2 separate regions of the Homo sapiens genome follow, and region 1 is linked to region 2. The links come from fine-mapping of genetic effects on gene expression. A gene starts in region 2. The other region holds a variant in brackets. All regions are shown on one strand. Distances are from middle to middle.

What was found. PIP is the estimated chance that this variant, and not a neighbour inherited with it, causes the effect. A credible set is the group of variants that fine-mapping cannot tell apart.
Region 1: its variant is the best candidate, but not a certain one, in a credible set for the expression of FRMD8 in whole blood (TOPMed, PIP 0.52).

Annotation. Positions count from the first base shown.
Region 1 is chr11:65,320,439-65,324,819 of GRCh38, forward strand. It overlaps CDC42EP2 (CDC42 effector protein 2), which reads left to right. Exons shown (of 2, transcript NM_006779.4): 2 at 106-1,979. The coding sequence starts at 461. The coding sequence ends at 1,093. LOC124902691 (a long non-coding RNA gene) reads left to right here and starts at 3,307. Exons shown (of 2, transcript XR_007062728.1): 1 at 3,307-3,650. The variant G/C (reference allele first, on the strand shown) is at 1,883.
Region 2 is chr11:65,384,748-65,389,128 of GRCh38, forward strand. It overlaps FRMD8 (FERM domain containing 8), which reads left to right and starts at 1,890. Exons shown (of 11, transcript NM_031904.5): 1 at 1,890-2,014; 2 at 2,290-2,374. The coding sequence starts at 2,290. RefSeq lists enhancers at 1,606-2,194, 4,234-4,381 and a silencer at 1,697-2,276.

The DNA.
Region 1 (4,381 bases), 64 kb before region 2:
CCAGCCTGGGTGACACAGTGAGACTCCATCTTAAAAATAAAAAAGATGTTTGCATCTGACCTTGGTCCCGCTGTCTCTGACAGGTGTGCACCCTTTGTGTTTCAGCTCCTCAGCCCTGGACCGGGGACAAGTAACCCTCGGTGACAAGACCAAAGTGCACTGCTGCCCACACAGTTCCTACCTTTCTGGCTTCAATTCTTCAGAAGAGTTTGCCGTCCTTTGGGGAGAACGTGATTTTTGTTATCTCAGCCCACTGACTTCATTGATCTCTAATCTTTTTTAATTCCTTGGGCCAACTTTGTTCGTGCCCCCACACTGTAGCCAGAAGCCCGTTGGCGAGCTCTGGCACCTGCAAACCACCCCGTGGAACGAGTGTTTCCTCTGGCTGAGGGTTGGAGAGGAGGTGTGGTCTCAGCAGGCGGCCCGTAGCCTCACAGCCAGGCCTGGTGGTGAGGTCACCATGTCCACCAAGGTGCCCATCTATCTGAAGCGTGGCAGTCGCAAGGGCAAGAAGGAGAAGCTTCGGGACCTGCTGTCCTCGGACATGATCAGCCCACCGCTGGGGGACTTCCGCCACACCATTCATATTGGCAGTGGCGGCGGCAGTGACATGTTTGGCGACATCTCCTTCCTGCAGGGCAAGTTCCACCTCCTGCCGGGGACCATGGTGGAGGGGCCTGAAGAAGATGGCACCTTCGACCTCCCCTTCCAGTTCACCCGCACCGCCACCGTGTGTGGGCGGGAGCTCCCGGACGGCCCATCCCCTCTGCTCAAGAACGCCATCTCCCTCCCGGTTATCGGTGGACCCCAGGCTCTCACCCTGCCCACAGCCCAGGCTCCACCCAAGCCCCCTCGCCTGCACCTGGAGACCCCTCAGCCTTCCCCACAGGAGGGAGGGAGTGTGGACATCTGGAGGATTCCAGAGACTGGCTCCCCCAACAGTGGACTGACCCCGGAGTCAGGGGCCGAGGAGCCCTTCCTGTCCAATGCCAGCTCCCTGCTGTCCCTGCACGTGGACCTGGGGCCTTCCATCCTGGATGATGTCCTGCAGATCATGGATCAGGACCTGGACAGCATGCAGATCCCCACATAGGACACGAGGCTGCCTAGGCTGGGGTCCCAGGTGGGGCCCAGCCAGGAGGTGGGGTGTGGACCCGGCCCTGGCGGCGGAGTCAGGGTCCCAAGATCCCACCTGTATGGTCGCTGGCCAGTGATTCTCCTTCTGAGCCGTGTTTCCCCTCTCCCTCCCTCTCCACGTGGGCAGGGCAGGCCCCATCGCTTTCCTCTGATAACCACATGGACACATCCTGAAGTCAGCCCAGGCGCCCTGAGCATCTTGGGGCACCTGGACCCCATCACAATACTCCTTCTTCCTTCAGGTCCCTGGGTGAAGGCTTTGCTGAAACCGACCCCCCTTTTCACGTCCCTTCTGCCTCTGCCCCGTTGGATGCCCTGACTGGGGGCAGGGGAAGAGACAGGGCACAGCTGGCCACAGGGCTCAGCCACTGAGCAGGCTGTTCCGGGCCTTTGGCTTTGCATCCTGGACGGGGAGTGTCCTGTCAGGGACCAGATGTGTCCTGCCTCATCCCTAGCTCCAATCCCTTCCCCACGTGACCGGGGATTCTGGTTGCAATAAAACATGCTGCTGCTGGTGGCGGAGCTCCCTGTCCCTTTGCCCCAGGTTTCCTCCCGGAGGCAGACAGTCTCCCAGAGCTGAGGGCTTGCCTCTGGAGACCCCAGCCCCAGAGGGCTTTGTGGAGGACAGGCCTTGCCCTCAAGAACGTCGTACCTGACGCTGAGCCTGTCATGAGAATGCAACAGGAGCAAACCAAGTGTTGCTGTGACATTGATTCAGATGTTTGGCAAGAGGTGGCTGAGCACT[G/C]GGGTGGGCTTGGCACTGTGCCAAGCCTGGGGCCAATCCCTGCCCAGTCAGCTGGGGTCTGGTGGGGGACACCCAAGAATAAAAGAATAACCACAAAGTGTGCAAGGGACCAACAGCTTCTCCAGCTTAAGAGCACCGAGGGAGCATGCAGGAGGGATGCTTGGAGCTGGGAGGGTCTAACAGTGCTGCTTCAAGATTCATTCCATCCACGGCTGTTTACTGAGCATCTCCAGTATACAAGGCACGGCTCCGGGTGCTGGGGATACAAGGCAGACGCCATCCCTGCTCTCTAAGAGTTTAAATTCTAGTTGGAAGGGGGATATTAAATTGGTAAACAAATAAGAGATGATTTCCAGCAGTGGTAAAGGCTACGAAGAAAACAACGTGATCAGGAATGCCTAGCAGGGAGGTCAGGGAGTGTCAGGGCTCATTAATGTGATCAGATGTGATTCTGAGCCAAATCGGAGCTACCAGCCAGATAACTCATATGTAAGCACAGGCACTGAGGAACCAGAGTGAAGACAGAGCAGACACCACACAGCAAAAGAGCGTGGACCTCCGAGTTGCACCTGGCCTGAGACTCAGTTTCCCCATCTCTAAAATGGAGCAGGCCAGGCATGGTGGCTCACACCTGTAACCCCAGCACTTTGGGAGGCCAAGGTGGGTGGATCATGAGGTCAGGAGATCGAGACCATCCTGGCCAACATGGTGAAACCCCGTCTCTACTAAAAATACAAAAATTAGCTGGGCATGGTGGCACGTGCCTGTAATCCTAGCTACTAGGGAGGCTGAGGCAGGAGAATCACTTGAACCCGGAAGCTGGAGGTTGCGGTGAGCCGAGATTGCGCTACTCCACTCCAGCCTTGGTGACAGAGTGAGACTCTATCTCAAAAAAAAAAAAAAAAAAAAAAGAGCCACTGATAGCTACCTCACAGGGTTATTGAGAAAACTAGGGATAACATTTATACTAGCCACAGGGAAGGGTTTTTTGTTGTTGTTGTTGTTGTTTTGTTTTGTTTTGTTTTTTTCTGTTGAGACGGAGTCTCACTCTGTTGCTCAGGCCGGAGTGCAATGGCACAGTCTCAGCTAACTAAACTCTGCCTCCCGGGTTCAAGCTACTCTCCTGCCTCAGCCTTCCAGGTAGCTTGGATTACAGGTGCACGCCACCATGCCTGGCTAATTTTTTGTTTTGTTGTCTATTTGTTTGTTTTTTTGTGTGTGACAGAGTCTCACTCTGTCACCTGGGCTAGAGTGCAGTGGCACAATCTCGGCTCACTGCAACCTCCGCTTCCCAGATTCAAGCAATTCTTCTGCCTCAGCCTCTCGAGTAGCTGGGATTGCAGATGCCTGCCACTGCTCCCAGCTAATTTTGTGTATTTTTAGTAGAGACGGGGTTTCACCATGTTGGCCAGGCTGGTCTCGAACTTCTGACCCCAGTTGATCCGCCCGCCTCAGCCTCCCAAAGTGCTGGTATTACAGGCATGAGCCACCATGCCCGTCCAGGAAAGGTGTTACAAATGGTTGCAGTGTGTGATGAAGGAAAGAACTGGGGCTCGGGAAGGGCGGGACTGTGAAGCTGGAACACAGGCTGGCGGCAGCAGGGAAGAGTTTCGCTGGCCAGGCTGACGCTGAGGCGATGGGGTGCTGCTGAAGGACGTGAAAGCAGAAGAGATAGGTGGTCAGATCTAGACCTGAGGAACGACATCACCCACGCCAGGTCGGGGATGGAGGTAGCCATGGCAGGCATGAGCAGGAGGACTGGACCCAGGTGAGGATGGTGGAGACAGAGAGGAGGGGAGTGGCCTAAGGTGGGGCCCGGTGGCCCCTTCTTCCACCCTCAGCCAGTTCTTTTCTACCTGTGTGACCTTGGAATCCCAGACACCCACCACTCCCCCAGCCTTTCACAAACATTACACAGTGTGTGTGTGTGTGTGTGTGTGTGTGTGTGTGTGTGTGTGTGTGTGAGAATGCATTTTTTTATTATTTCTGGACATTTTATTTATTTATTTATTTATTTCGAGACGGAGTCTTGCTCTGTCGCCCAGGCTAGAGTGCAGTGGCACGATCTCAGCTCACTACAACCTCCGCCTCCCAGGTTCAAGCGATTCTCCTGCCTCAGCCTCCCGAGTAGCTGGGATTACAGGTGCCTGCCACCATGCCCGGCTAATTATTTTTGTTTTTGTTTTGAGATGGAGTCTTGCTCTGGTGCCAGGCTGGAGTGCAGTGGCACGATCTGAGCTCACTGCAATCTCCGCCTCCCGGGTTCAAGCGATTCCCCTGCCTCAGCCTCCCGAGTAGTTGAGACTACAGGCATGCACCACCACGCCCAGTTAATTTTTTGTATTTTAGTAGAGACGGGGTTTCACCATCTTGGCCATGTTGTGATCCTCCTGCCTTGGCCTCCCAAAGTGCTGGGATTACAGGTGTGAGCCACCGCACCCGGTGCCCAGCTAATTTTTGTAGGCCAATTTTTGTATTTTTAGTAGAGACAGGATTTTG
Region 2 (4,381 bases):
AGGCTGGAATACAGTGGCAGGATGGCGCTATCAGAGCTCACTGTGAGCTCACACTCCTGGGCTCCAGCGATCCTCCCACCTCAGGCTCCTGAATGGCTAGGACCACAGATGTGTGCCACCACACCTGGCTAATTTTTGGGTTTTTTACAGATGGCGTCTCACTATGTTCCCCAGGCTGGTCTTGAACTCCTGGCCTCAGGCGATCCTCCTGCCTCGGCCTCCCAAAGTGCTGTGGTTTTAAATGTGCTGTTCTCCTGGGCTTCTTTCTCTTTCCCCTCTTCCTTAACTCACCAATTAAACCACAACAGACACTTTCTGAGGGCAGGGCCACGTCTCCCCTCAGTCTCCATCCCCTGACCTAGCACAAGCCCCGCATCCAGTAAGCATTCAAAACAACACTGAACTCTTCTGCTCCTGCTTCACTCCAGCTGGGTCAAGAGGCCATGGAGATACAGTGTGTCCTGGTCTGAGGGTCCCAGAGCTGAGAACCAGGAAGGAGATGCCTGCCCCCACTGGACACCCTTCCCTGCAGCCCACATCTGAGCTTCCTCAAGTCCTTAAGTCACATTGGCAAGGCAAATGTGATGTCATGGGCTCAGCTGTGGGGCAGTGTGGATCATAGGAGGGCAGGCAGAGCTGGTTCACATACCAAAGAAGGCTGGACTGGGTCAGGAGCTAGAGCTGCTTTCCAATCCCAGGGAACCAGGGCAAAGTGAACCCACTGCCCTCTGTTCCTGATCACCAAGCCCACTGCTGTCACTTGGGACAACTTCTGGTTCCTCTGGCCCCAGAAGGTGCCCCATGGACTTATTTTTCTCCCTGAGTTCCACATCTCAGATGCACACATGTTGCATTACCAGGACATGTCAGTGACATGGCCCTGAGGGTAGGTGGTTTCACACCTGCCTCTTTGGGGCCCCAAGTCTCCTCCCAGCCTGGGAAAACCTCAAGGTCTCCCAGGCTGTTGTGTAAGATAGTAAGGGCTCATGTCACTGCTCCCTGGAAAAACAGAGTGTCTGTCCTGGTTTTCTGATTTAGACATATATATATAAATTTTTTTTTTTTTTCAGACGGAGTCTCGCCGTCGCCCAGGCTAGAGTGCAGTGGTGTGATCTCGGCTCACTGCAGGCTCCGCCCCCTGGGGTTCACACCATTCTCCTGCCTCAGCCTTCCCGCGTAGCTGGGACTACAGGCGCCCGCCACCTCGCCCGGCTAATTTTTTGTATTTTTAGTAGAGACGGGGTTTCATCGTGTTAGCCAGGATGGTCTGGATCTCCTGACCTCGTGATCCGCCCGCCTCGGCCTCCCAAAGTGCTGGGATTACAGGCGTGAGCCACCGCGCCCGGCCGACATAGACATATATTAATAATCATTTAGAGAGTAGGGATAGTCCTTGGGGGTCATTCAGTTCAACCACCTCATTTTACAGATGAGGAAAACTGAGGCCCAGAGGAGAAGGGACTTGTCCAGGATGAGTCTGGGCCAGGACTCATTCTCCTGACCACTGCCGAGAGCGCCACGGTACAGGCCGCTGCCAGCGCCGCATGGATCCCTGGCACGTGCCAGGAAGTGTCCATTTCACAGGCAGGGAACTAGCCCGAAGACCCAGCGTGGGCAGGCCAACGCCCCTAGCCTGATTCTCGAATCTTCGCCAAACCCTCTTACAGGCCAACAGTCGGGGCCTTTGTGAAGGGAAACTCGCTCTGGGTCACTCTGGTGGTGGCGGGGCTGGTACGTGACGCGGCCACCCCACGGGCGTGATGAGACACGCGAGGCTGGCGTCCGGGCATGCGCGGGCCGCGCGGGGCGGCCCTGGGCTCCCATTGGCTCCCCCGGGTCGAAGGGGGCGGGGCCTCGGGCGCCGCGCTTCCTCCCGCCGTGGCTTCCGCGTCGCTTCCCGGTCAGCTGCGTCCTTAGCGGGAGCCCGAGTGCGGGCGGTGGCGGGCTTGGCGGCGGGGCAGGATTCCAGGCAGGAGCCTTGCCTCTCAGGTGGCGGGCTCTGCGACCCTGCGAGGTGAGAGCACAGCGACGTCTGGCCCGGGCCTCCGTCCCCGGCTGGGCGTGCGCCTTGCCCTGCCTGGGCATCCAGGTCGACCCCCGGTTCTTGACCGTAGCAACCCGCACCCCTCCCACCAGCGCCCGGTCTGCACTCTTGGCCCCTCCAGGCAGCGCCGCTCAACCTTGCGGACCCAGCCTGGGATCCCTTACCGTACTCACCGAGAGCTTGAGGAGACCTCCAGCCCCCCATCCCTGGCTCCCGGTAACTGCTGTTTCTCTTTGCCTTTGCAGATGGACGGGACAGAAGGCAGTGCCGGGCAGCCCGGCCCCGCTGAGCGATCCCACCGAAGCAGCGTGTCCTCCGTGGGAGCCCGAGGTGGGTCCCACCCGCATCTCCTCTTCCACACCCTCCTGGGACCCCAGCCCTGGAGAAGTAGCTCTGGCTTGTCTTCTTTTTCATTAAAGATAATTTATGTATCGACTAAGAAATAATAAGGTACATTCAGATGTGGAAAACTCACAGAAGTCAGAGGCTCTGTCACTAGTTTACTGGCCAGGTTGGGTCCTCGCTCTCATTTGTAAAATGAGCTTGTTTAACATAGCTGTGAAATTCAAATGAGATTATATGAATGAAAAGTGAAGGCTGATGTGGTTCATGCTTGTAATCCCAGAACTTTGGGAGGCCAAGGTGGGCAGACCACATGTGCCCAGGAGTTCGAGACCAGCCTGGGCAACATAGACAAAAAAGAAAGTGACACGTTCACTTTCTTTGTGTCATTTCTTTTTTTCTTTCTTTCCTTTCTTTCTTTCTTTGACAGAGTCTCCCTCTGTCGCCCAGGCTGGAGTGCAGTGGTGCGATCTCAGCTCACTGCAAGCCCCGCCTTCGGGGTTCACGCCATTCTCCTGCCTCAGCCTCCCGAGTAGCTAGGACTACAGGCGCCCGCCACCACGCCTGGCTAATTTTTTGCATTTTTAGTAGAGACGGGGTTTCATCGTGTTAGCCAGGATGGTCTCGATCTCCTGACCTCGTGATCTGCCTGCCTCAGCCTCTCAAAGTGCTGGGATTACAGGCGTGAGCCACCACACCCGGCTGTGTCCTTTCTTTCTCCCAAACAGCCTTTTGAAAGCAGGGATCAGGCTGGGCGTAGTAGCTCACACCTGTAATCCCAGCACTTTGGGAGGCCGAGGCGGGTGGATCACTTGAAGTTGAGAATTCCAAGAGCAGCCTGACCAACATGGAGAAACCCCTGTCTCTACTAAAAATGCAAATTAGCTGGGCGTGGTGGCACATGCCTGTAATCCCAGCTACTCAGGAGGCTGAGGCAGGAGAATGACTTGAACCTGAGAGGCGGAGGTTGCGGTGAGCTGAGCTCGCACCATTGCACTCCAGCCTGGGCAACGAGGGTGAAACTCCGTCTCAAAAAAAAAAAAAAACAGGGATCATATCATGATCTTCATTTGATAGGGAGGAAACTGGGCCCTAGGGAGGTTAAGTCCCAGGCAGGCTGTGGAAGCTCTCCAGGTGATTACATACTGCAGCTTCTGGTGCCTCAGTTCTTGCCTGAGAAGTAGATCTGAACCTGAGCCTCCTCGAAGTGATTTTGTGATCTCTGAGAGTAGCTGCTGGAGCATAACAGACTGGGGGTCCGAGGAGCACCTTCTCTTGTGTAGATGAGAAACCGTGCCCTTCCCTTCCACACACTCTTGGAGGGAGGAGTATTAGCTCTACTTTTACAGATGAGGCAACTGACAACTTAAATTGACTCCCTGAAGTTGGCCAGCGACCAGGCAAGGATGGGAACCCGAGTATGTCGGCCCCAAACTCCAGTGTTCCTTCACCATGCCTGCAGTCTCAGGGATGGGGATTTGAATCTGGTTGCTCTTCCAGGTGTCTCCATTTGGCTCTGGAACCCACAAGTTGTCACAAGGGAACTCTCAGCTATTTGGGCTGTTCTTCCCTAGCCTGCTTCGTATTGACTCCTGAGGCTTAAAGAGTCCTCAGACTTAAAGAGTCCCAAGGAAGCTGAGACCTGGAACTTGCTTTAACCTGGGTGACCTAAAGAATTATCTCTTCGCATCTTAGCCTCAGTCAGAGAGAGACTTGCCTAAGGACAGCAGCGGGTTACCAGCTCTCGCTCCTGCCAGCCAGCCAGACTAACTGCCATAGCCTCAGGATGGTTTCAGCCTCTCTATGCTGTGGTTTCAGCCTCTCTGTGCTGTAGTTTCACATCTGTGGCATGTTCTTGTTCAGGGCAGAAGAACAGTTGAATCCTTGGGGCAGCTATGGTGGTGAGGGGCAGGTTTGCAATGGCCAGGCTTAATTTGAATCTTGGGGGATTGCGGTGGGGCTGGTCTCTGGGCAGGAGTTACTGGGTTTCTGGGT